2 separate regions of the Homo sapiens genome follow, and region 1 is linked to region 2. Evidence: fine-mapped expression QTL. A gene starts in region 2. The other region holds a variant in brackets. All regions are shown on one strand. Distances are from middle to middle.

Region 1 (2,911 bases), 8.9 kb after region 2:
CGATCTCTTGACCTTATGATCTGCCCACCTCAGCCTCCCAGAGTGCTGGGATTACAGGCGTGAGACACTGCACCCAGTCCCTCATGCTCTTCTTCAAGGAAGCTCTGAGAGGCAGATTCCCATGGCTGCCGCACCTGAGGAGTAGCCTGGAAGAGGGTGAAGCTCCCTTTGGCCCTGTAGACTCCTTGCCCTTAGGGTAGAAATGCAGCTAGAGAAGGACAAGAGAGGAGCTTCTGAAAGTAGAGGGTGTGCACTGCCCTAGTCCAGGCTGAGGATGTTACTGTGTAGACCCAGTTCGACTTCCCTTCGGCTAAAGCCCCAAAGAGCCGCATCACCACCCAATACAAGCAGATGTGTGGTGGAAACGAAGTCTGAGTGGGAGATGTGGGCTTCAGGAATTGTTAAAATATTATATCTTGATTTTTGCATATTTTTTAAAAACATGCTGCGCCGGGCACGGTGGCTCACGCCTGTAATCCCAGTACTTTGGGAGGCCCAGGCGGGCGGATCACGAGGTCAGGAGATCGAGACCATCCTAGCTAACACGGTGAAACCCTGTCTCTACTAAAAATACAAAAAATTAGCCGGGCGTGGTGGTGGGTGCCTGTAGTCCCAGCTACTCAGGAGGCTGAGGCAGGAGAATGGCATGAACCCGGGAGGCAGAGCTTGCAGTGAGCCGAGATTGTGCCACTCCACTCCAGCCTGGGAAACAGAGTGAGACTCTGTCTCAAAAAAAAAAAAAAAAAAAAAAAACCCAAAACAACAATAACAACAAAAAAAACCATGTTAATCTATTGCTTGAGTCCTCCCAAGGTTGGGGAAGCAGCTCTTCCAAGGGAGGCCTGAAATTTAAGCTGCATTATCTTCGTGATGATTCCATTTCTGCATTAACTATTGCTATGGTTTTCATATTGGGTAGTTCCTGTAATTTGAGATCCTTCTTTTTCAGGTGGCAGCTGAGGCTTACTACCCCAGGAAAGGGATGCCACCAGAGAAGGCAGACAACCAAGATGGCGACTCTCAATTTTTGAGCTCCTAATTTTCTCATGTCAGACATAAGAAAAAAAAATATTTTTTAAAGAAAAAGCTTTAGGTTGCAAAAATCTAGGCCTTTCAACTTTAAAATCCTATTCTTGCAAGCCTTGGAGAATAAAGCTTATGCATAAACAGTAGATTTGGAAACAGAAATATGCCTAATTACCCAGAGCCATTCTTTCAATACGCCAGTGATTGTTTAAAGATTCTATAGGCTGGAGTCAATGGCAGGAGGCGGGTGGGAAAAGAGTCAAGAGGGAGGAGAGAAGAAGCAAGAGGGTTGGGTAGATATTGTCACATGACCCTGAGAGGAGGATTCTGGGTCAAACCCCTAGGGGGTTGTGTGTAATGGAGACTCCAGATCCATTTGGGAATCTGGCTCCAAAGAAGACTTCACCTTGCCTTCTGAGTGGAGCCCTGAAGTGGCAAGACTCATAGAATTCCCCCACGGGTCCACACAAGAGAGAATGAATAGAGAAGGCTGCGTGCTGGCTGGACCAAGGCAGCCTCGGGTG[ACACCACCAC/A]CACCACCGCCGCTGCCGCCATCGCCATCACCACTGCCGCTGCCATCACCGCCACCACCACCACCATCACCACCACCATCACCACATTATGGACAATAGCCCAATGTTTCCTGAGTTCCCTAGAGGGTTGAAAGAGAATAGGACCTAGAGAGATCACATAGTTGGGACAGGCACTCATTAATTTGATCCAATGACAAGAGACCAGATGGGAAGAAGGATGCCTTGAGAGATGTCAGTGTGCACCCATGGATAGAAGCAGCTGGTGACTGGGTACTTGGGAAGCCACATGGACACACACAAAGCTCCTGGAAGACGTTTTCAAGGAGTTGGGCTGTGCTGGGATCCAGAACTGGCTGAAGAAACCATGAGCTGACATAAAATTTCTGCCACCTAGCAGAATGGAGGCTCCATTTGGAAATTAAATTATATACTTAAAAAAACTATAATTGCTTCATTTCTTTTTTTTGAGATGGAGTTTCACTCTTGTTGCCCAGGCTGTAGTGCAATGGCACCATCTCAGCTCACTGCAAACTCCGCTCCCGGGTTCAAGAGGTGATCCTGCCTCAGCCTCCCGAGTAGCTAGGATTACAGGTGTGCGGCCACCATGCCCCGCTAATTTTGTATTTTCAGTAGAGACGGGGTTTTACCATGTTGGTCAAGCTGGTCTCAAACTCCTGACCTCAAATGATCCACCCACTTTGGCCTCCCAAAGTGCCAGGATTACAGGCATGAGCCACTGCGTGAAGCCAAATGCTTCATTTCTTTTTTTCTTTTTTTTTGTTGAGAGGGAGTCTCACTCTGCCGCCCAGGCTGGAGTGCAGTGCCGCAATCTCGGCTCACTGCAAGCTCCCGCGTTCACGCCATTCTCCTGCCTCAGCCTCCCGAGTAGCTGGGACTACGGGCGCCCGCCACCACGCCTAGCTAATTTTGTTTTGTACTTTTAGTAGAGCCGGGGTTTCACCGTGTTAGCCAGGACGGTCTCGATCTCCTGACCTCGTGATCCGCCCGCCTGGGCCTCCCAAAGTGCTGGGATTACAGGCGTGAGCCACCGCGCCCGGCCTGCTTCATTCCTTATACATCTGAGTTGGCCATCTGAGATTTTGTTTCTACTACACAGCACTACGGCAAGGATTACGCGAAACCACCTAGTCCCTAGTATGGTTCCTGCCATGTAATCAGGACACAGCAGATCGCAGCTGGGTATTTTCCATTTTCCTCCGGATCTGCTCTGCACCCTTCTCCACTGGCCCTCAGCTGTGGGAAGCTGACCTCATGGACTGCAGGCAATGCGCGTAATTGCCCTATGGGAGGCACCAACAGGAAATGGGAGGGGCTGGGAGGGAAGAGCTATG
Region 2 (2,911 bases):
CACCAATGGCATTCAGGCCTCCAGACTTCTAGGCCAGGATAAGTTCTTTAAGAAAACACAAGGTTCCAACCCAGGGTTGCCACACTTTTTAAATTTCTATTTTTTTAAGACAGAGTCTTGCTCTGTCACCCAGGCTGGAGTGCAGTGGCACATTCTTGGCTCACTGCAGCCTCCGCCTCTGAGGTTCAAGCCATCCTCTCACCTCAGCCTCCTGAGGAGCTGGGACTATAGGCACATGCCACTATGCCCAACTAATTTTTGTATTTTTTGTAGAGACAGGGATTCACAGACTGTTGCCCAGGCTGGTCTCGAACTCCTGAGCTCAAGCCATCTGCCTGCCTCAACCTCCCAAAATGCTGGGATTACAGGCATGAGCTGCAACACCCGGCCACCACACTTTTACTTGGGGAGATCAGGATGTCAGAATTGAAAACTGCATTTAATCTACAGAGGCAGGGCGATGTGACAGTTAAGAGCGGGCACAAGGAAATCAGACCTGCCGAGTTCAGGTCCCAACTCTGTGACATGCTGCTGTGTGACTTGTACCAGTTTGATCTCCCCTAGCCTTAGTTTATTCAGAAGAAAAAGTGGGTTAATAATTAGGCCAGGCGCAGTGGCTCATGCCTGTAATCCCAGCACTTTGGGAGGCTGAGGTGGGCAGATCACGAGGTCAGGAGTTCGAGACCAGCCTGGCCAACATGGCGAAACCCTGTCTCTACCAAAAAATACAAAAATTAGCTGGGTGTGCTGGTGGGTTCCTGTAATCCCAGCTACACAGGAGGCTGAGGCAGGAGAATCACTTAAACCCGAGAGGCGGAGGCTGCAGTGAGCCAAGATCACGCCACTGCACTCCAGCCTGGGTGACAGAGCAAGACTCCATTCCAGAAAATAAATAAATAAATAAATAAACAAATTAGCCGGGCATGGTGGTGTGTGCCTGTAGTCCCAGCTACTTGGGAGGCTGAGGCAGGAGAATCACTTGAACCCAGGAGGCGGAGGTTGCAGTGAGCCAAGATCCCGCAACTGCACTTCAGCCTGGGTGACAGAGACTCTGTCTCAAAAAAAACCAAAATTGTGTCTTTCTCTTAAGGTTCTTATGGTGATTGAGATACACTGTGCAAGGCTTTTTAACACAATGCCCAGAACATGGCAACACTCAATAAATACTAGCAAATATCACCACCATTATTTCCATCATTTCACTGAAGACATTTTAACAACAGAAAAATATATATCTTGGCCAAAATGATAGTTTAAATTGCATGCATTGAGCTTTTGGAAGTGTCACTCATTGATTCTCTGTTTCTTCAGGGTGGACCTAAGAATCCCTGGATTCAGTGATCTTGGGATTCTTTCTGCTCTAAGACGCAACGCTTTTGGGGTTGTTAACAGCCTTGATTAGCAAAGGAATGTTCATGGCCCATGGCTAAAGATAAGTGATAAATCAGGTGCCCTTAGTGGCCATCCTGAACTTGGATTAGACTCCGACTCTGCACAGAGACCTTTCATGCAGGGCTGGACTATTTCAGGAAATCAGAACCACAGATATGTAATCCTTCCCTACTCTCCTCCTTGTCTCTGTTGGTGACGTCAGGCTTCAGCTACACTAGCCGTTAACTGAGGTCCGAGGGTCCTGGCCTGGGATCCGGAGCCCCTAACTGCCTGTTCTGCCTTCCTGCAAAAGCTGGTTGTTTGGGCCAGTTGGTTTTTGGTTTCTGTGCGGCCACTCCCACCCCCACCCCAGCTCCCTGACCACGGGCTGCGGAAGAGTGGGACGTTATGGAACCTTCTCAGCTTATTCAGAGAGGCTTCTTCTTCCTATTTAGTCTCCCTCTGGCTTTCCCTGCTGGGATCTGGGTGGTAGAAGCAGCAGGGGGATCAACGAACAGGCTGAGCGCCAAGAAGCCTGAAGATTCCAGAATCTAGCGGGAAAAGCATTCAGAGTCAGAATGAGTAAGCAACTTCATCTCCTGGCCTTTACTTTTCTGTAAAACAGAGGCAATTCTATCTCCCTCATGGATGTGATAAAATAATACTTTGACTAGTAATAATAATATTCATTCAGGAGTGGATCTGGGTGTTGTGGGGCCTGAAGCTTATTCAGTGTGGAGGGTCCTTTTTAAGAAAGAAGAATACAAATTTACAAACACATCAAATATAAAAGGGGATATTTACTTAGGAGAAAAAAATCACAACAAATTACAATTAAAAAGAAAAACTGGGCCAGGCACAGTGGCTCATGCCTATAATCCCAACACTTCAGGAGGTGGAGACGGGCAGATCACTTGAGTCCAGGAATTCCAGACCAGCCTGGGCAACGTGGTGAAACTCCACCTCTATAAAAAATGCAAAAATTAGCCAGGCGTGGTAGCACACGCCTGTAGTCCCAGCTACTCAGGAGGCTGAGGTGCGAGGATCACCTGAGCTTGAGAGGTTGAGGCTGCAGTGAGCTGTGATCACGCCACTGTGCTCCAGCCTGAGTAACAGAGTGAGATCCTGTCTCAAGAAAAAAGAAAAAAGAAAAACTGAACAAATACTACAAATATCACAAAATCTAGAAAAATAATGTACTACATTTTATTAATTGTCTTCTATGCTTCTAATACCTTTTTCCTACATTTTTTGGCTGCATGCATTTTAGTAGCTTCTTCCTATGGCAATGGTTTTGTGGTAGTATTTTCTGTTTCTATAAAGAGATTATAAAGTTAATTCAGTCTTTTCCTTAGCACAGTTGGTCAAAATTTGTTTTTTATTATTGATGGCTTCAACTAGGTATCAATGACAAGCAAATTCTCTGCTTGCAATTGCCATTACATATTCATGATTGGAAGCATTTCCTTCAACCTTGCCCTGCCTTGCTTCATCCCCACAAACCCATCCTTTTACAGCCAGAATGCATTTGTTTCAGTGT

Alleles and levels. Positions count from the first base shown, and alleles are read on the strand shown. Sizes are in standard deviations (SD) of each study's normalised expression.
In carriers of allele A in region 1, the expression in tibial artery of the gene that starts at base 1,763 in region 2 tends to be lower than with ACACCACCAC alone (small effect, 0.23 SD a copy in GTEx).

What was found. PIP is the estimated chance that this variant, and not a neighbour inherited with it, causes the effect.
Region 1: its variant is fine-mapped to the expression of LINC00570 in tibial artery (GTEx, PIP 0.92).

What each region holds. Positions count from the first base shown.
Region 1 is chr2:11,401,076-11,403,986 of GRCh38, forward strand. LINC00570 (long intergenic non-protein coding RNA 570) reads left to right here. Exons shown (of 3, transcript NR_047499.1): 3 at 950-2,002. Among named protein-coding and RNA genes, the nearest start is that of LINC00570, 8.6 kb to the left of the region's middle. The variant ACACCACCAC/A (reference allele first, on the strand shown) is at 1,551.
Region 2 is chr2:11,392,219-11,395,129 of GRCh38, forward strand. LINC00570 (long intergenic non-protein coding RNA 570) reads left to right here and starts at 1,763. Exons shown (of 3, transcript NR_047499.1): 1 at 1,763-1,953.